4 linked regions of the Homo sapiens genome follow. The protein of the gene in region 1 interacts with the protein of each later gene in a pairwise test. Each region holds a gene or a part of one and is shown on either strand. Other genes may lie near its edges.

The links.
Region 2: the proteins of SYNC (region 1) and TRAF3IP1 interact in a two-hybrid assay, tested with the Homo sapiens proteins (one large-scale study listed by IntAct).
Region 3: the proteins of SYNC (region 1) and ATP1A3 interact in binary tests that used the Homo sapiens proteins (3 or more experiments, as listed by UniProt).
Region 4: the proteins of SYNC (region 1) and ITSN1 interact in a two-hybrid assay, tested with the Homo sapiens proteins (one large-scale study listed by BioGRID and IntAct).

What each region holds. Positions count from the first base shown.
Region 1 is NC_000001.11:32,691,621-32,697,108, forward strand, and holds part of SYNC (syncoilin), read right to left. Parts: intron 4,425-5,488; coding exon 3,245-4,424; intron 1-3,244.
Region 2 is NC_000002.12:238,342,633-238,348,120, reverse strand, and holds part of TRAF3IP1 (TRAF3-interacting protein 1), read right to left. Parts: intron 4,321-5,488; exon of another isoform or gene 4,067-4,320; coding exon of another isoform or gene 3,940-4,066; intron 3,625-3,939; coding exon 3,523-3,624; intron 667-3,522; coding exon 646-666; intron 1-645.
Region 3 is NC_000019.10:41,970,231-41,975,718, forward strand, and holds part of ATP1A3 (sodium/potassium-transporting ATPase subunit alpha-3), read right to left. Parts: coding exon 5,399-5,488; intron 313-5,398; coding exon 158-312; intron 79-157; coding exon 1-78. UniProt on the Homo sapiens protein: This is the catalytic component of the active enzyme, which catalyzes the hydrolysis of ATP coupled with the exchange of sodium and potassium ions across the plasma membrane.
Region 4 is NC_000021.9:33,896,302-33,901,150, reverse strand, and holds the end of ITSN1 (intersectin-1), read right to left. Parts: 3' UTR 1,290-4,849; downstream 1-1,289. UniProt on the Homo sapiens protein: Adapter protein that provides a link between the endocytic membrane traffic and the actin assembly machinery. Acts as a guanine nucleotide exchange factor (GEF) for CDC42, and thereby stimulates actin nucleation mediated by WASL and the ARP2/3 complex.

The sequences.
Region 1 (5,488 bases):
AGACTACTGAATAAAGTCCAAAACTCAAGCTTGTCACCTGCAGCCAAGTTACTAATTATATTTCAGATATGTTGAGTTAGATAAAATATATTTAAATTAATTTTACCTATATCTTTTCTCCCCTGCTCCCCTCAGGCTTAGCTCAGCTGAATTTTTGCCTATTTTAATGTGGCTATTAGAAAATTTGTAATTATTTATGTGACTTGCATTATATTTCTGTTGGGCAGCACTGGTCTAGATTCTCCCTATGCTTTCATACCTAGCTCAAATTCCACCTCTTTTTTCATGAAGAGTTCTCTGATTTAACCAGCGCCTAAAAATAATCTATCCCGGCCGGGCGCAGTGGCTCATGCCTGTAATCCCAGCACTTTGAGAGGCGAGGCGGGCGGATCACAAGATCAGGAGATGGAGACCATCCTGGCTAACACGGTGAAACCCCGTCTCTATTAAAAATGCAAAAAATTAGCCTGGTGCGGTGGCGGGCGCCTGCAATCCCAGCTACTCGGGAGGCTGAGGCAGGACAATGGCGCGAACCCGGGAGGCAGAGCTTGCAGTGAGCTGAGCGCCACTGCACTCCAGCCTGGGCAAGAGTGACAGACTCCGTCTCAAAAAATAATAATCATCATCATCATCATCATCTATCCCACAGCCCTTTTACCTGCACCTCTCATAAATCACCTATTACTTTCTTCTCTGAGATACAACTATTAATGTAATGTCTGTCTGAGTATTGGCTGTTAAGGATAGTATTGATGCTAAATAAATGACTTTTCACTAGACTGTGAACCAATTTTTTAAAAAATAGGGTAAGGGGAATATGAAGAGTTTAAAAACATTCAGTATTACTTCTGGGTGTGGTGGCTTACGCCTGTAATCCCAACACTGGGAGGCTGAGGCCGGTGGATCACCTGAGGTCAGGTGTTCGAGACCAGCCTGACCAACATGGTGAAACCCCATCTCTACTAAAATACCCAAATTAGCTGGGCATGGTGGCACAGGTCTGCAATCCCAGCAACTTGGGAGACTGAGGCAGGAGGATTGCTTGAACCCAGGAGGCAGAGGTTGCAGTGAGCTGAGATCATGCCACTGCACTCCACTGCACTCCAGCCTGTGTGACAGAGCGAGACTCTGTAAAAATAACTGGGAGGCTGAGGCGGGTGGACTGCCTAAGCTCAGGAGTTTGAGACCACCCTGGGCAACATGGTGAAACCCCATCTCTACTAAAATACAAAAAATTAGCTGGGTGCAGTGGCGGGCACCTGTAGTCCCAGCAACTCAGGAGGCTGAAATGAGAATTGCTTGAACCCGGGAGGTGGAGTTTGCAGTGAGCCGAGATTGGTTCAGTGCACTCCAGCCTGGGTGAAAGAGCAAGACTCTGTCTCAAAAATAAATAAATAAAGATAAAAATAAAAAACATTCAGTATTATGACCCCAAAAACCACAGTGTTTTTTTTTTGTTTGTTTGTTTTTGTTTGTTTTTGAGATGGAGTCTCACTCTGTCACCCAGGCTAGAGTGCAGTGGTGCAATCTCAGCTCACTGCAACCTCCGCCTCCCGGGTTCAAGCGATTCTCCTGCCTCAGCCTCCCAAGTAGCTGGGACTACAGGCATGTGCCACCATGCCCCCCTAATTTTTGTCTTTTTAGTAGAGACGGGGTTTCACCATATTGGCTATACTTGTCTCAAACTACTGACCTTGTGATCCACCCACCTCAGCCTCCCAACCAAAGTGCTGGGATTACAGGCGTGAGCCACCGCTCCCAGACAGAGTGTTTTCATAATACAAACTACAGAAAGCTTGACAAAATCTTCAGTGAAGTGAATGCAGCCATTTCAACAGGGAAACTTGTTCCCTTAAGGGCATATCACAATCTCTGGGAAGACATAGATTTCTAAGTTTATCCAAAGGAATCAGTGTTTCAAAAGATTAAAGTACTGCTTAGAGCACCACACTACAGTCTTCTCATTAGTGCCCAGCAGCACATGTGCTCTGAGCCTTGAGTAGCAGAGAGTAATACAACAATAAGTAAAATGTATTCCCTACCTTCTGAAAGTTCACAGTCTAGGAGGGACTACGTAATTGTTTATTCACTTAGTATTTATATCCCACTCTGTTCTAAAAAGGGATTAGAACTGGCTCACACTTAATCAGAAATAACTTGAATGCAAGAGAGATGGGGACAAATGCACATAAAAGGAAAGTGAAGATGAGAGGATTCTATTAAGGTTGGTGCAAAATTAATTGCAGCTTTTGCCATTAAAAGTACTTGAGCCCAGGATTTCAAGACCAGCCTGGGCAACATGGCAAAACCCTGTCTACAAAAAATACAAAAATTGGCCGGCTGCGGTGGCTCACACCTATAATCCTAGCTCTTTGGGAGGCCAAGGCAGGCGGATAGCTTGAGCTCAGGAGTTCAAATCCAGCCTGGGCCACGTGGTGAAACCCTGTCTCTACAAAAAATTAGCCAGGTATGGTGGCACACACTTGTAGTCCCAGCTGCTTGGGGGCTAAGGCAGGAGGATCGCTTGAGCCCAAGAGGTTTGAGGTGCAGTGAGCCCTCAAGATTGCACCTGTCTCAAAAAAGAAAAAATTAGCTGGGCATGTTGGTGCACAGTTGTGGTCCCAGCTACTCAAGAGGCTGAGGTGGGAGGATCGCTTGAACCTGAGAGGTCGAGGCTGCAGTTAGCTGTGATCATGCCACTGCACCAGCCTAAGTGACAGCAAGACCCTGTCGCAAAAAAAACAGAGTGCAGGCCGGGCGCGGTGGCTCACACCTGTAATCCCAGCACTTTGGGAGGCCAAGGCAGGCGGATCACGAGGTCAGGAGATCCAGACCATCCTGGTTAACAACAGTGAAACCCCGACTCTACTAAAAATACAAAAAAATAGCCGGGCATGGTGGTGAGCACCTGTAGTCCCAGCTACTCAGAAGGCTGAGGCAGGAGAATGGCATGAACCCAGGAGGCAGAGCTTGTAGTGAGCTGAGATCGCACCACTGCACTCTAGCCTGGGCGACAGAGCGAGACTCCATCTCAAAAAAAAAAAAACAAAAAACAGTGCAGATAACTTCTAGTCCCTAGCATGGGCCTGAATGAATGAAGAATGGAGAAAAAATTGCGTGGCCCCAAAGAACAAATTTTTCTTCCTACATGTGACACTATCTTTCAGCCCCAAAGACCTTGGACTCTGGCCACTCTTTCCCCAGGTTAAAAGACCTCAGTTCTTTTCATGCCCAATGGGCCTACCCTGTACTGCTGCACCTCTTCATCTCGTTTTTGCCTCACAAGTGCGATCTGGTCCTCCAGGTTCCTGTTTTGCAGGCGGAGCTGCCGGGCCTCTGCTTGCAGGGGTCTCAGAGCCTCCTTCATTTCCTGGATCTCAGCCTGGGTTCTCTGCAGAGCTTTGGTCCCAGCTTCTTTCCTCTCTAGGAGCCGCAGGAACTGAGGCTCATACTCCTCCTCCAGGTCCTGGCGGCTCTCTGCCATGAGATTTTCAAACTGGGCAGAGAGTCGCCGGCTTTCCTGGAGAAAGTGCCCATCCCTCTGGCTTGGAGGGGCTTCTAGTTGTTGCCGCAGCTGCTCCTTCTGCTTCTGATAGGCATCCCGGAGCTGGGCCAGTTCCTCTGAGAGCTGGGTTGCCCTTGTAGTCAGCACTTCCCGGAAATCGGCAAACTGAGCCACGTCCTGCTGGCGGCACTCCAGCTGGTATTGGTAGGCCACACATTCCTTTGTCACTTTGAAAAGCTTCTGCTTGACCAGCCGGATCTCCTCCCTTAGGCCATCTCTCTCCAGCTCTGCTTGGGCATGGAGCTTGTAGGCAGCCAGGATGTCTTGATGGACTTGCTGTACCTCCTGCAGGGCTGGTTCCCGGAGCAATACAAGCTCATGGATGAGCTGATCCCTCTCCTCTTCCAGCTGGGCCACAGCTTGGACACACTGCTGGAAACGCCCCTCTAGCAATTCCAGGTCCTCTATGCTCAGGTTCTCCTCCATGCTGGGGCTCTGCTCGGCTCTGAGGCTCTCCTCAGGGTTAGATTTCTCCGCCCTTGTGACTGTCTCTCCCTCATAAACAACGTGCTCTGGGCTTGTGGGCTTTCCTGGCTCCACGGGCCCCTCCACAAACTGTATCCGATCTGGCTCCGTGGTTTCCTCCACACACACTGTCTCCTCTGGATTCCCAGGCTCCTCCACATGCAGAGCCTCATCTGGCTGCATGGCCTCCTCAATATACAGGGCCTCCTCTGCCTTCTCAGTCTCTTGCACATAGAGTGTCTCATCAAGGTCACCTGTGTCCTCCAGGTAGAGAATGTCTTCGAGGTTTAAGGACCCCTCTGAAGATAGAGTAACTTCTGGGTTCAAGGCTTCTGCCTCATTTAGGGATCCAGAGTTCTTTGGAAGAGGAGAATTGGCCTCTACTCTTGTTTTCCTGCAAAAGAAATGATTGAAAGTGAAAGGGCAGCCACAATCCCAGGATGGTGCAATTCTGGAGCCAGCAGCCATGGGCCTAGACTACCTCAGGTTCTTAGATGTCAGCAGCCATTCGTCTGCTCCCTCCACTCTGTCAATCCACCCCTCCACACACCCAACCACGGTGTAGATCCCCTGCCAGCATCCCAGCGACATCACCATATGGTCTCTGCTTATGCAGCTCCAAGGACTCGACATACCTGAGGCACCACTGTTTGTTCCACAATTATAATAATTTTTTTTTTTTGAGATGGAGTCCCGCTGTATTGCCGAGGCTGGAGTGCAATAGCGTGATGTCGGCTCACTGCAACCTCTGTCCCCCAGTTCATGCGATTCTCTTGCCTCAGCCTCCCAAGTAGCACCACCACGCCTTTTTTTTTTGAGACGGAGTCTTGCTCTGTTGCCAGGCTGGAATGCAGTGGTGCGATCTTGGCTCACTGCAGCCTCCACCTCCCAGGTTCAAGTGATTCTCCTGCCTCAGCCTCCTGAGCAGCTGGGATTATAGGCACACATACCACCACGCCCGGCTAATTTTTGTATTTTTAGTGGAGATGGGGTTTCACCATGTTAGTCAGGCTGTTCTCAAACTCCTGACCTCATGATCTGCCCGCCTCGGCCTCCCAAAGTGCTGGGATTATAGGCATGAGCCACTGCGCCCAGCCCAGTTCTAATAAAATTATAATGTTGAGGTAAAACCTTCCTTATAACTTTTTTTTTTCTTTGAGATGGAGTCTTGCTCTGTCACCCAGGCTGGAGTGCAGTGGTGCCATTTCAGCCTCCACCTCCCAGGTAGGTGGGACTACAGACACGTGCCATCACACTCAGCTGATTTTTGTATTTTTAGTAGAGATGGGGTTTTACCATGTTGGCCAGGCTGGTCTCAAACTCCTGACCTCAAGTGATCCGCCCTCTTCAGCCTCCCAAAGTGTTGGGATTACAGGCATTGAGCCACCATGCCCAGCAATTCCTGGTAACTTTTAGCCACTGGATTTACCTGATTCTTCCTTCTAGGATCAGATATTT
Region 2 (5,488 bases), on another chromosome or scaffold:
ATCAGTAAATAACAAGGCCTAAACTATTAAGACAAGTTTACTCCACTATTTAAAGTAAAAGGAATTAACACTTCAGAAAATAGTCAGAATTTGAATATTAGAAATATACTTTATATTCTGGAAAAAAATCCTGAAATGTATTGTTTTCAAACTTAAAACATATAAATTAAATTTCAAATTAAATTAGGGTAGTTGGCCAGGCGCAGTAACTCACACCTGTAATCCCAGAACTTTGGGAGGCCGAGGCAGGTGGATCACCTGAGGTCAGGAGTTCGAGACCAGCTTGACCAACATGGAGAAACCCCGTCTCTACTAAAAATACAAAATTAGCCGGGCGTGGTGGTGCATGCCTGTAATCCCAGCTACTCAGGAGGCTGAGGCAGGAGAATTGCTTGAACCCGGGAGGCAGAGGTTGCGGTGAACCGAGATCATGCCATTGCACTCCAGCCTGGGCAACAAGAGTGAAACTCCATCTCAAAAAATAAATAAATAAATAAATACATTAGGGTAGTTATGATCTTTTTCCATAAAATAAGTTACTTTCACTAATGCACTTTATAAAGCATGAATCTGAGAGTCCACATTCACATTCACACACATGCATACAATTGATATGACACACAGGTATCTAAGGCCATTCCTCACCTGCATCACTGGTGGAGTCACCTAAAGAAAAAGCACATCAGAAAATTAGCTTTCGTGTAGTCAACCTCAATACATTAAATGATGAGAACAGAATTGGAGAAAAAACACACTGTACATAATTTTGGATGTCTGCTAAGAAAAAAAGATCATTTCCTCATAGCCGCTTTTCTAATGTCCCTATTGCCATTTTGTTTTATTTTCAAAGATAGAAAAACAAAGAGCAAACAAACTGTGCATCATAAAATGGTACTAAATAGAAACAGGACACAGGGATGTGGAGAAAGCACATCGGAGAGGAAGTTAACAAGTTCATGAGACAAGAATCGACAAAGCCAGAGCCACAGAAAAAGTGCATCCAAATGTGAGGGAACGATGCAACAGTCTGAACCCGGCCAACCAAATCCCGGGCCGTTCCAAAGACTGGGAGACAGTCAACAACAGCCCATCTTATAGACATGATTGGTAAGCATTTTTCCATCAGCTCCTGAAAGCAGAAGAAAATCTTCCAGCTCAACAGAGGCCCACCTCTGCACCTTCACCCAGGATCCTTTTTCTTCAAGTGTTGTCTTGAGGACAAATGTGACCTAAACGGTCAAAGTAAATGAGCAGTGGCACCACAGGGGTGGGGTGATTCAAAACCACAGGTGGGAAATCTCTGTTTCACACTCTTAAGATGCACGAACGCATTTGCAGAAGAGCAGAAAGCGCATGGATTCACATGACAGCCCAGCACACTATACGGCAGAGAGGAGGCAGCAGGGCCTGATGCAGCGCCTCGTTTAACACGGCCCCGCCTCAGACAGGAACAGTTCATGCAGCCTCGAGAAATCAGCCTGGGTTATTGTGAGGGTCCACACCGAGCAGAGTGAGGAGCACTCTACAGACACCTCTAGCTCGTTTATTCACAGGAGGACTTTCTGTGAGCATAACAGCCACGAGCTCATAAATGCTGCCTTAAGAGGGTGGCTCTGGCAGGGAGAGAGGGGGCCAAGCTTGTGGATCAAGGGGAACCGGGAGGCTCTAGAGGACTCTATTAGTATGGGCCTGAGAACCTCCAGAGGTCACACCCCACAAAGTGCCACAGCACAGGGGGTAGCCTGGCACCCACCAGGGCCTAGGGGACTGGAGGGCACAGTGGTTAGCAGGGGGCTGGAGAATGTGGTTCCAGATAGTGCCACTACAAGGGCAGTTTCAGAGACCCCAGCACTTTGGGCCAATGGGGGCAGAGGACTCAGCTCAACCCTGGGATGGGACTGCTGGGGACCAAGAGCAGGTGGCAGAAGATCTTTTCCTCATGGCTGTGCGGCCTGGAGCGTGTGCTTAGCAGAAACCAGCACTGAGAGTCCTCGTGCGACCTGGGGGCAGGCAGCAGACACAGTTTCAAATCCCCGGCTCTTTCTTCAAAACACCAGGGTGTTAGGAACAGACCCTGGATTAACACAGCACTCAAAAAGGTGCCTGAGAGGTGCAGTTATTCAACCACAAGGCCGATACCCAGAAGGAAAGTCAGCACAGTGAACTCTCTACCTTTCAATGGATACTTCCAGTCCCCGTTACCCAGAACCCAAGGCACCTGCCACATGGCCCACACCATCCTCCCCGACGCCTGTGCTTCCACAGCGCCAGTGCTCTGCCAGCTCCTGCACTCACAATCTCGTCCTAGGTGACCCAGTCCCCACCCAGGCTCCTGCCATCACCCAGCGCCAGCAACTCTCACAGCTCCTCTCTAGCCTGGGCCTTCCCTCTACGCTCCAGGCCAGCTCCCCCAGCACGTGCCAGCAGCCCTGGAATCCTACCACTTCTCCCCTCCCAGGGCGCCTCCACAGTCCAGGCCTCTCTCTCTTCTCTGCACAATCTTTAACCCTCCCTAATTAACATGGCCACTCTTTAAAATCTAAATATCATTATACTGCTCCTCCTAAAGATATAATTAGCCTCCCGCTGCTCTTCCAATAAAGGCTAAACTCCATAAGCTGGCACAGGGACCTGGCTCTGGCCCTTCCTCTGGGCTGAGCCAGCCCTGCTGCAGTCGCATCCCAGCCGGGATCTTGGTTTATACAGCCCCTTCTGCCCTGCAGGCTTTCTGGGCCACCCTCACCAACCAAGGCCCCTCCCGTCCCAGACTGCCACCCCATCAAACGATTTCGGTTGATCTTCGAGCCTCATCTGCACCAGGAAGGCAGGAGGCCAGCCTGACTTCACTGGCTCATGCGCTCCCAGCCTCAGGGCTGACATGCAGTAGGCCTTCAACAGATAATTTTCTGTTTGAACAAATCAACAAACATCAGCCCTCCCCTGGCCACACCCCACCCTGCCGCTGCCACCTGCACAAGCCTTGGTTACCTGGGCACTGGTACCCTTGCAGGCCTGTTAGGAGCTCCAAGGCCTCAAAACACAAACATTGAATGGCTATTTTACCAAAGTTTTTTTAAAGGCTGAGAAAATTTATGGTGAAAGTAAAATCCCACTGAGGTATAATTCAACACTCAAAGAAAATGACAGACAGAAAAATCATGGTGGCCACAGCACTGTGACCATGAAGTCTGGGGGGTACACCTCTTGACTGGTGGGGCTCTCCAAGTAGTGACCCCGAAACTTTTCAGGGACCACTCATGACACCCCCCAAGTGATGAAACATGCCACCTCCTCTCACTTACAGAGCACGGGGGAGCACACGAGTGGGTCCCATGCTATCAAGAAACCACCATGTTCGATTCTAGTTTATGCAAAAAGGCAGAAGTGAATCACTGTGAATCACTTGCCACGTTCAGACCCAAGAGGAAAACCTCGGGCTCTGGGCTGCGGCCCTTTGAGAAGAAGGTTCTGGAGGGCTCACTCTGCTCTCGCCAGGAAAGGGCGAAACTGGACCATTCTTACCTTTCTGCTTCTCTGTGGGGTTGGGCTGAATATTCTCACACCGCAGACTAGCTGAATTATCATCTGAAATACTAGTTGAGTTAATATTAGCTTCTTTTGTTCCTGACATAAAACAGTTTAAAATTAGTCATTAAGACTGTACACCAAAGGGCCGGTGATCAGCGGCTTCATTAACATAGAGCACACTTACTTATCTATGTTTTCCCACACTGCAAGTTAGGACTGACAAAGGACTGACCAAAGGCAGCTTTTAGAAAACATGCATCTAGAATGTTCCTCCCCCATGGGCGGCTCTGGGGTGAAAGGGAAAGGACACCCCAGACTATGAGTGGATCCTTGGTCTACTCAGGCCAGGAGGAGCAGACTGCCCCCGCCCCCCATTTCTGGAGCTACCTGACACTGCCAGTCTCCACTCACCTCCCCAGTAGAGCCAGACCCAGCAGCTGAGAGGCTGCAAGTAGGCGGCTGTTTCAGGAATGCAGGAAGAAAAGAAAAATATTTTGGACACAGTGCACAGTCCTGGCCATATTGAAAACTTCCACATATTGTCTACTAATTACTGACTGATGTTCCAAAGTTTATGAAGATAGAAAAAATATCAAATACCTGAGAAAATATTTTTGCTGTGAAAAAAAAAACAGGCTGGGCACAGTGGCTCACACCTATAATCCCCGCATTTTGGGAGGCCTAGGTGGGAGGATCACTTGAACCCAGGAGTAAAGACAACCTAGGTAACACAGAGAGAACTCGTCTACACAAAAAAATATAAAATTTAAAAAGCTAGCCAAGCATGGTTACACACACCCGTAGTCCCAGCTACTCAGGAGGCTGAGATGGTAGGATCACTTGAGTCCAGGAGTTTAGGCTGCAATAAGCTGTGATCACGCCACTGCACTCCAGCCCAGGGCAAAGAGTAAGACCCTATCTCGGGGAAAAAAAAAAAAAAAAAAAAGGCCAAGCACAGTGGCTCATGCCTGAAGTCTCAACACTTTAGGAGGCCAAGGCAGGCACCAGCCTGGGCAACATAGCGAAACCTCATATCTACAAAAATTAGCTAGGCATGGTGGCAGGTGCCTGTAGTCCCAGCTACCCAGGAGGCTGAGGCAAGAGAATCACGTGAGCCCAGGAGGTCGAGGCTGCAGTGAGCCATGATCATGCCACCACTCTCCAGCCTGCATGTAAGAGCGAGATCATGTCTGAAAAAAAAAGGGTAGGAGCCAGGTGTGGTGGCTCACGCCTATAATCCCAGCACTTTGGGAGGCTGAGGCCGGTGGATCATGAGCTCAAGAGAGCGAGACCATCCTGGCCAACATGGTGAAACCCCATCTCTACTAAAAATAGAAAAATTAGCCGGGTGTGGTGGCACATGCCTGTAGTCCCAGCCACTCGGGAGGCTAAGGCAGGAGAATCTCTTGGACCCGGGAAGCAGAGGTTGCAGTGAGCGAGATCGTGCCACTGCACTCCAGCCTGGTGACAGAGCCAGACTCTGTCTCAAAAAAAAAAAAATAGGGGGCCCAGATGAGGGGCTAGAGGAATAGGTTCTATATTACAGCAGGACCCAGAGCTGGAAAACTAGCTTCAGTCAAAGGACCTACCACTCTAAAAAGAAACTGAGAGACAAAAATAAAATTGTAAAATGTTCCCTTTCCTGAAACACAATCTTATAATTCTTAAAACTATTCAAAACAGCTTACATCAGAATCAACCTGACATTAACTATCATATAACTGTTTTATTTATAATGTAATAGAACTACATAAAATAGATGACACATAATTTTGCAAAGACATTTTTATCAATCTGTGAAAATGATACTGACTTAAATAGTCTGATTCAAACAGTTATTTATATTTTACTCAGGGTAACCAGAGAATAAACATGAAATATTAAGTTCTTAACAAAAAAAAATCTAAAAATAAACATAAGTTTGGCGGTTGTAGATGCTCAACTTTAGAAGAAAACACTC
Region 3 (5,488 bases), on another chromosome or scaffold:
GTCCGTCCGCGGGTTCCTGGGCTGTCTCTTCATGATGTCGCTTTCGGCAGCCTCGTACGCCAGTGAGATGGCAGGGACCTAGGCGGAGGAGGCCGGGTGAGCCGGAGAGGGGAGGACTCCACCCTCCTGGGCCCCAAGGGTGGCTGCCAGGGCTCACCATGTCAGTGCCCAGATCGATGCAGAGGATGGTGATGGTGCCCAGGGGCAGCGGGATGTTGGCCATGATGAACAGCAGGAAGGGCGTGATCTCCGGGATATTGCTGGTCAGGGTGTAGGCAATGGACTTCTTTAGGTTGTCGAAGATCAGGCGGCCTGTGGCACAGGCAGGCTCAGAGCAGGCGCCCATGCCAGGGAGCCCCACTCCCTCTGCCCCTCCTCTGCCCTCATCCAACGTCCTTTTTTTTTTTTTTTTTTTTTTTGAGACAGAGTCTCGCTGTGTTGCCCAGGCTGGAGTGCAGTGGTGCGATCTCGGCTCACTGCAGGCTCCGCCTCCCGGGTTCACGCCATTCTCCTGCCTCAGCCTCCCGAGTAGCTGGCACTACAGGCACCTGCCACCACGCCCGGCTAATTTTTTTGTATTTTTATTAGAGACGGGGTTTCACTGTGTTAGCCTGCATGGTCTCAATCTCCTGACCTCGTGATCTGCCCTCCTCGGCCTCCTGAAGTGCTGGGATTACAGGCGTGAGCCACCGCGCCCGGCCTGTCCAGCGTCCTTTTCTACCCCCCAGCCCACCCACCATTATTTTCTTTTTGGGACAGGGTCTCACTCTGTTGCCCAGGCTGCAGTGCAGTGGCATGATCACGGCTCACTGCAACCTCGACTCCCAGGCTCAAGTGATCCTCCTGCCTCAGCCTCCCATGTAGCTGAGACTACAGTCACGCGCCACCACGTCCAGCTAATTTTTGTATTTTTAGTAGAGACAGAGTCTCACCACTTTTCCTAGGCTTGTCTAATTTCTGGGCTGTGATTCCATCTCAGCCTCCCGAAGTGCTGGGATTACAGGCATAAGTCTCCACACCTGGCCCCTCACCCACCTACCTTTCCACATAAACATCCAACCACATCGCCTTTGTGGAAACATTCTTGAAATAACCACTTTGGAAGATGGTTTCGGAGTTGCTATCAAACATCCCCCACCCCACCGACCGAGTAATCCGACTCCTAGGTTTTATACCCAAAAGAGAGGAGGACTGTTTATGCCCAGCGAAAAGCAAGTACGAGAATGTTCACCATAGCACCACTCATCAGAGCCAAAAGCCAGAGTCAACCCCATGTCCATCAACAGGTGAGGGATGAATAAACCACGGTACATCCATGCAGTCAAATACTACACAGCAAGAAGGGGCGAGCTACGGACACAACTCCACAGCTGGACCTTGGATCCCGTGCTGAGTGACACGAGCCAGACACAAAAGCATTCTTAGCATCCAACTCCAACTGGAGCAGGCTCAGCACCCGTCTCTGGGCTAAAAGTCAGGATAATGGTTATGTCTAGGAGGAGGGATATAGACTGGAAGAGAGCAGACAAAACCTAAATGGGGGGCTGGAATGGTTTTCTATCTTGACTGGGGTCTGGTGGTTGCATGGCTGTGTACATGTGTAAAAATTTATACACCCTGTCTGGTTGAATATTTTAATGAGATATAATATGCCCAACTCACTGTATGCATGCCATATCTCAATAAATATTCAACCAGTACAGGTTGTCTAAAGTAAACAAAATAAAGATTAATCCAGGCCAGGCGCTGGGGCTCACACCTGTAATCCCAACACTTTGGGAGACCGAAGCAGGAGGATTGCCTGAGATCAAGAGTTCAAGACCAGCCTGGCCAACATGATGAAACCCCATCTCTACTAAAAATACAAAAATTAGCTGGGCGTGGTGGTGGGCACCTGTAACCCCAGCTACTTGGGAGGCTGAGGCAGGAGAATCATTTGAACCTCAGAGGCAGACGTTGCAGTGAGCCGCAATTGTGCCATTGCACTCCAGCCTGGGCAACAGAGCAAGACTCCATCTCAAAAAAATAAAATAAAATAAAATAAACATTAGTCAGGCACGGTGGCTCGAGCCTGTGGTCGCAGCTACTTGGGAGGCTGAGGTGGGAGGATCACTTGAGGAGGTCGAGGTTGCAGTGACTGATGATTGCAGCACTGCGCTCCAGCCTGGGCAACAGAGTGAGACCTTGTCTCTAAATAAATAAATAAGTAAAAAGATTAGCCCATGAACAATGAGGTCAATCATTAAGAAAGAACAGGCGGGCACGGTGGCAAACACCTGTAATCCCAGCACTTTGGGAGGCTGAGGCGGGTGGATCACGAGGTCAGGAGATCGAGACTATCCTGGCCAACATGGTGAAACCCCATCTCTACTAAAACACAAAAAATTAGCTGGGAGTGGTGGTGTGTGCCTGTAGTTCCAGCTATGTGGGAAGCTGAGGCAGAAGAATCGCTTGAAGCTGGGAGGTGGAGGTTGCAGTGAGCCAACATCACGCCACTGCACTCCAGCCTGGCAACAGAGCAAGACTCCATCAAAAAAAGGGGAGGGGAGGGGAGGGGGAAGGAAGGAAGGAAGGGGAAGGAAGGAAGGAAGGAAGGAAGGAAGGAAGGAAGGAAGGAAGGAAGGAAGGAAAGAAGGAAGGAAGGCAGGCAGGCAGGGACGGAGGGAGGGAGGAAGGGAGGGAGGGAGGGAAGGGAAGGTGAAGCAGGCTGCCTGTGGTGTGGCTTCTTTGATTGCTTTGATGTCTCTTGCATAGCAATAAGGGCCTGGGCCGCTCCCACCTGATATTCTCGTTCCCTGCATTGTGCTCTTCTCCACAAACTAGGGGTTTCTCATCCTAAACTATTTATGGATGAAATGGTGACAAATGTGCATCAGCATAATCCAGTGTGTGTTCCAGGTGGTGGGGAAGAAACAAGGTGTGCCGTGCGCTGACTGCCGCTGCAGGTGGGATGGAGGCGCAGGGGCCCACTGTGCCTTTGCTTTACTTTTGGGTATATCTGGAATGCCCCCGTTGGAAGTTATTTTGTTTGTTTGTTTGAGACAGGGTCTCGGATCTCGCTCTATCCCAGGCTGGAGTGCAGTGGCACCATCATGGTTCATGGCAGCCTCGACCACCCAGGCTCAAGTGATCCTCCTGCCTCAGCCCCCCAAGTCTCTGAGACTACAGGTGTGCAACACCACGCCCTGCTAATTTTTAAAATTTTTTGATCTTTGAGGTCTTAATTTGTTGTACAGGCAGGTCTTGAACTCCTGGGCTCAAGCGATCCTCCCGCCTTGGTCTCCCAAAGTGCTGGGATTACAGGCGTGAGCCCCCGTGCCTGGCCCCTGACGGAAGTTAGGTATTTCTTCCCTCACTTCAGAGAGGCCTTCCCTGTCCACCCCATCTGGGCAGGACCCTCACTATTATCTATCACAGCGGCCTGCTTTCTTCGGGGCATATATCACAATTTGTAATTACATATCTGTTAACTTGTTTAAGGCTGTCTCTCCAGCCCTGTGAGAACAGGGATGGTGTCTGCTCTGCTCACAGCTGCCTCCCAGGCTTCCAGCATGATGCACAAGATTCGGAAGGAGCAGACGGCTGTATCTGAGACAGTGTGTGTACTGTGTATGCATAGATGTCTTGGGGAGGCCAGGCGTGGTGGCTCATGCCTGTAATCCCAGCAAATTGGGAGGCCAAGGTGGGAGGATTGCTTGAGCCCAGGAGTTGAAGACCTCGCTGGGCGAGGTGGCTCACCCCTGCAATCCCAGCACTTTGGGAGGCCAAGGTGCGGGGATCACTTCAGGTCAGGAGATCAAGACCAGCCTGGCTAACATGGTGAAACCCCATCTCTACTAAAAATACAAAAATTAGCCTGGTGTGGTGGCATGCACCTGTAATTCTAGCTACTCGGGAGGCTGAAGCAGGAGAATTGCTTGAACCCAGGAGGTGGAGGCTACAGTAAGCCGAGATTGCATGCCTGTACTCCAGCCTGGGTGACAGAGCAAGACTCTGTCTCAAAAAAAAAGAAAGACTAGTCTGGGCAACATGGCGAAACCCCATCTCTACAAAATCTTAAAAATCAGCCAGGTGTGATGGTGCATACCTGTAGTCTCAGCTACTTAGGGGCCTGAGGCAGGAGGATCGATTAAGTCCCGGAGGTGGAGGCTGCAGTTAGCCGTGATTGTGCCACTGCACTCCATCCTGGGTGACAGATTGAGACTCTATCCCCGCCCCCAGCCCCCAAAAAAAGATGTCTCTTGGGAGATAAGAAGGTGTTAACCATGGTTTCCTCTGGGATATAGGAGACAAGGGCTGAGGACATTTAATCTGTTACTCTGGGCTCGGCTTTGCCGTTTGAATTCTCTTTTACCATGAACTACTTTTTACACCAGAGACATTTCAAATAGGAGAGAGAAATTGGAAGAAAATCCACCAAGGCATGAACCGTGATTATTTCTGGATGGCGAGGTTACGGGTGATTCTACTTTTTTCCTGAATGCTTTTCTGCATTTGTCTATGATTATCATGAATTAATTTGATGATCAAAATAAATCTGAATGTGAACCAACCCTTCTGTGGCCTTGTCTGGGCCTGTCAGGAGGTGGTGCCTGTCGGCTCAGCAGCACCAGCCTCAGACCCAGCCCCTCACACCGCCTTGCCTGTGTACCGGTTCCTCTGCCTGCGACTCCCTGGCACTAGTCTATGTGGACGTCACAGCATGGCCCCTGACTTGGCTCAGCCATCCCTGTCCACTCTGGGAAGCTCCCTTGACCCCCAGCCCAGGCTGGCAGAGGGGGTATCCCCCAGGGTCCCTGGCTTCCCCCTGGTTGGGCTTGAGAATTTTTTTTTTTTTTTGAGACGGAGTCTCGCTCTGTCCCCCAGGCTGGAGTGCTGTGGCGCAATCTCAGCTCACTGCAACCTCCACCTCCTGGGTTCAAGCAATTCTCCTGCCTCAGCCTCCCGAGTAGCTGGGACTACAGGCAACCGCCACAATGCCCGGCTAATTTTTTGTATTTTTAGTAGAGACGGGGTTTCACCATGTTAGCCAGGATGGTCTCGATCTTCTGACCTCATGATCTGCCTGCTTCAGCCTTCCAAAGTGCTGGGATTACAGGCGTGGCTGCCGCCCCTGGCTGAGAATATCTTTAAAAAGCCTCCAAGTCAGCTTCACCCACCAGATGGGGCCTGGGCTGGATGACGCAGGGACCCTGAAGTGTGTCAGCTCAGTCCTGCCCAGGGGAGCTCCCGACCCCACAGGGGAGGAAGACAGAAAAGGACAGGCTCAGGCTCCTCCAGGGCCAGGGGGCCTGTGGTCTCTGCCACACATCCCCCTGCAGCCCTGGCCAGTTCCCCTTGCTGGTCTCAGGCCTCCGGTAGTGACCCTGGTCTCCAGGGCCACCCCTGGCCAACTCACCCTCCTCCACCCCTGTGACGATGGAGGCAAAGTTGTCGTCCAGCAGGATCATGTCAGCTGCCTGCTTGGAGACGTCAGAGCCAGCGATGC
Region 4 (4,849 bases), on another chromosome or scaffold:
TCTCCATTAAGTGATTTTATTTCCTTTGTGTTTTTCTTTCCTTGCTGAATTTTCTGCATTAACAAGTATTACTTCTGTAACAAGAAGAAAAACTAAATATTTGAGAATAAAAAGTATTGCCTTGATTATGCTGGCTACTAACCGTGGTTAAATAGGTAATAATTACATGTTTTGTACTAGTGATTCCATCCACTCTCTGGTCTGTGTGAGGGGGCCCTCATCAGACTTGGAGAGAACTAGGTATAGTTGGGAAAGTTAATTATTGCATTTGTTTTTAATGGCATTTAACTTTTTATTTTTAAGACAGGGTCTCACTCTGTCACCCAGACTGGAGTGCAGTGGCACAATCATGGCTCACTGCAGCCTTGGCCTCCTGGACTCAAGAGATCCTCCTGCCTCAGCCTCCCAAATACCCGGGACCATGAGCATGTGCCACCATGCCTGGCTGATTTATTTTTTGTAAAGACAAGGTCTCACTATGTTGCTCAGGCTGGTCTTGAACTTCTGGATGCAAGCAATCCTCCTGCCTCAGCCTCCCAAAGCACTGGGATTACAGGTGTGAGCCACCACATCCAGCCTTAACTTATTTTTAAAACTTCAAATAACAACCAAGAAAAGGGCATACGATTTTATGTTCTTCAAAAATGGGGCATACTAGTTTTAAAAAGGCAAAGACATACTGCTGTAGGGTCAACTTTTTAAAAATGTGCTATGTCACAATTCAACTAGTGTCCAAGCCAGCTAGAGAATTTAAAGGACTTATTTATAGTCAGTTAAATCAGTGATGAAATAGGTAGGAATGGCCTTAAAACCAGAACAGGAGGAAACAACCTAATACAATTCAGCGTTGGGTTTTATGGAACGCAGAATTATAGATCACCCAAGTGCTGAACACGTGGAGTTACGTGTGTTAGAAACTTCTTCCTGGAAATTCAGCGACCCTTCTGAATGTCTTTATAAGAAAATCAGCTTTTTGCACCGCCCTCTCAACCCCACCCTCAGAATTTCTTATGCTGTACAACACAAAACTTCTCCTGTTCTCACAAAGACTTCGTACACAGAAATCTATTTCTGCTTGGTGTTAGCTAACATTTATCTGAAGCCGCAGGACAGCTGAAAGGGTTGTTGGTTGGTTTTGTTTTCTAGGTTTATTTCTGCACAATTTTCCTTGCACAGCTACAATCTTATCTGTGGGAAGAGGAAGAGACACCATTTGCAGGGCTGTTAGCTTCCTGTGCTCTCAGAAAAGAGTGAAGCAGAAAGAACCCAAAATAATCCACTATAACAGATTGGCTTTTCTCCTTTTATTCATGAACTATTTGAATTTAAACCACACAGGTCAAAATGACCAAAGAGTTGTTTTTTGTTTTTGTTTTTGTTTTTGAAGAGATTGTTCTTTTTAGGTTCAAGATACACAGGAAGAGCAATTTGTACTGATGTTGCTACTGGTTTAAAGAAAGGTCTCAGTTACCATCATCTTAATCGGTAAAATTTAACATTTCACACATAATAAGTTGCCAAAGGAACACTCAAACAGCAAAAACAAACCTCAGCTTCTTTCAAACAAAAAAGAAGAAACAATGTTTTGGCCCTGCTTCATCAAACCTTTAGACAAATACGTAAGTCTACAATTTATAATAGTGTCTAGTAATTCTTAGAATTCCATTAACATTACATATCAGACAATATAGTCTCTCTTTTATGGAAAATTAAACAGTACCATTATTTGGCAACAGAAGTATATTACAATCAACAGCACATCCATCAAGGGGCGGGCCTGGTCCTACCCCTGGGCAGGGCTGTGAGGGAAGCAACATGCCACCAGCACTGTGGCCCGCTTGTCACTGGAAGCACAAGGAGCTCACGTTCTGATGGATTACATTCTTTTCCAAACAGGCAAAGGCTATCTGGGAGGGTTCGCTAGCACTCCTGGGAAGGGAGGGCCCCATGTTCTAGCTTTTCTTGTCCCCAGACTTTTTTGAAACAACCAAGGCCCAAGGGACAGTTGACTGGCTGACTTGTTTCCACTCACAGCCCTCTTGCCACCCCAGCCAGAGGGCATCGTTCTAAGGAAGGAGAGTCAGGGCCTGTTTGGGGTTGGTAGACCAGAGCTCATCTCCTCTGCTGGCAGGCCTTAGGTGGCCTTCCAAGGCTGCGCCTGAACAAAGAAATCTCTGAACAGCTCCATCTTTGGGAATAAAGCCAGTTATGGACCACATGGACAGTGCCTCTAAGTGATTTGCAGATTATTCATGCACCTAAATAGATTCCAGGAAGCTTCCAGAAATCACAGCTTCCCATACTCCTGAAGTCAGCAGCTTTACTGGTTCGGGCCTCTCAAAAAAGGGGCTCCAGTTGCTGGTTGACAGCATTAAGATGCACGCAGCCTGTTCAAAGAAATGTTGAAAACCTAACACATTCTTCAGATGTCTTTTCAGACCACAGGCCCTCAACCTTCCACCAGCGGTGTCACCCCCAAACACAATGCATTCAGATCACCAGAAACCAGCTCTTTTTGTTACTGCAGTATTTCCAGGCTGCCAGGGGAGGCTGGACTCCTGGGGTTGCCCCCTCCTGAAATCATTTCTGAATGCCTTTCTCAGGGGTTTAGACATTGAGTTTCACAGAATCCTCCTTAGGTGGCCTAAGGGGCACTTCTGGTGGCCAAGTACAGAAAGTCTGTGCCCCAGAAGCAGCCTGGACTTCTGATCCTTTTCTGGGAATGCAGACGGGAGGAAGGCATCTTCCCCCTGGGGTCTCCATGGAAACATGGGCATCCAGAAGCCTGCCCCAAAACGGCTTAACTCAGAAACCCTAAACCATCCATCCACCCACCTGGCTATGCAACAGTTGAAGACAGTGAGGATGCATCAGGAAATTTCATGGAAAACGCAAACGCTAATTAGGGATAAACTGAATCAATCCAGATACAGAAGTAGAAAGGGCGACCTGGAAGTCAGAGAGTGGCCTCTCTAGTGGGATAGCTGCGTCAGCCCCAGATCCCTAACAAATCCACTAGAACCCAAGGAAGCCTGCGTGGCACATGGATCTGATGAAAAACAGGCTCCCTATCCTCTCATCCTTCCTGACACAAGTACCCTCTCAGATATGTGATCTGCAAAAATCCATTTTTAATGCAACACCAAGGTCCCATGCGAGGTCATAGCTACAGGATACTTTTCATTTGATCACGCCACCATCCATTACACTGAAATTTATCATATTTCCTGCAGGAAAAAAAATGACTCATTTGATTTCTAACATATACAACTTGGAATTTTTTTTTAATATAAGAAATTTAGTTGAGTTGAACCCAAGTAATCTCATTAAGCATTTTCTACTCTTGGAATAGGTTTTAAATTTTTTTCTATAGTTTTATGCACTTAAATTAGATTCCTAAAATACTCTCATATACATACAGAAAAATAATCTCTCAATGACAAATCACATTTTACAATAACAAGTTAAATATTTTTGACTACAGAATCTGTGTTAGTTTATGCAACATTTAACAGCATGGCCTCTTACATACCATATATACATTTAGTCATGGCCATTCCATAAACATACAGCAGAGATTTCATGAGGAACATGAAATGAATACAACCTTTTCCCTTTATATAGTGGGAGTTCGCCTTTTTCTTAGCTGGAAACAGCACAGAATGTAGAAAACCGGAAACTGAGCTGATTATCATCCACAGGACATTTTTGTTGCAGTTTCTCATCTGTACACATGTATTTACACATAAGTTCACCACCTATACGTGTGAGGGTACAAAGCTGATGGAGCTAAGGCAATACAACACGGGGTGGGCAGGGGCCAACTCCCCTATCTATGCAGGGCCACCAAGGGATAAGAAGGGTCATGGAGGGCACAGACTCCGGCTTGCGGGGCTACAGCAGATGAGATCTGAGGTTGATTTCACAGTTCAAAGATACTTGGGCTATTGGCCATGTAGGCTTTAAATGCATGTCTAAAATTAAGTAGCATTAACATAGATCTTGCTAAAATATCTACTTTCTGTCACAGTGAATGTTTAGCAGATGACATTTTAAGGATATTGATTTATAGAATGTACCTCAAATGTTCATTCATTAAAACTAATGCTGACACGCTATTAATGAAATGCCCCTGGAGAACACTTGCAGAACTTCCCGTAGTCCGGAAGATTGCATGACGCATGAAAACAAAGCCATAATTTGTTATGTCATTCAAGGTGACTCAATCAAATCCAGGTGAGATGAGTTTGCAATTTCTGTCAACATTTTTACTTAGCAAATATAATCCCAGACAGAATCAGGAAACATAGTGAGGATTATTGCTCAATGTATATGGAGATGGGGACCTACTTGCAAAAAGCAAATGGAACTGCAAACATTTTGGAGCGTCCAGCCCAGGAAAAGTAAAAGCTCGTGAAAGAAAGCAACAACAGGAAGCCCAGCTTCATGGTCAGCTGCCTCCCGGGGCCATGGTCTTCTAGAACTTGAGGCTACTTACACAGAGGGATCTTTTCTCTCCTACCATCCCCATACATGGGATCCTAAGGGGAGAGTCTAGCTGGGAGGTCGCAGCCTCTCCGAAGCAGGTTCCTCCCAGACACCCGCAGACCAGATCGTGTGGCCCAGCTGGGCAGGGAGGCACTGGCTCCGCAGACTCCCCTTCTCTCCAGGGGGTGAAGGCTGGAGGAGCAAGTGTCCAGCCACTGGGGAAGGGACACTGAGCACTTCTATGACCCTGCTTCTCTTTGAAGGCAGAAGGTTGGAAAAGGCTTGCTGTCCTCCCAGGAAAGGGGAGAAAAGCTCCCAGTGGATGCCCAAGGCCCAGAGGAAGGGTTTTATTTCCAAGCAG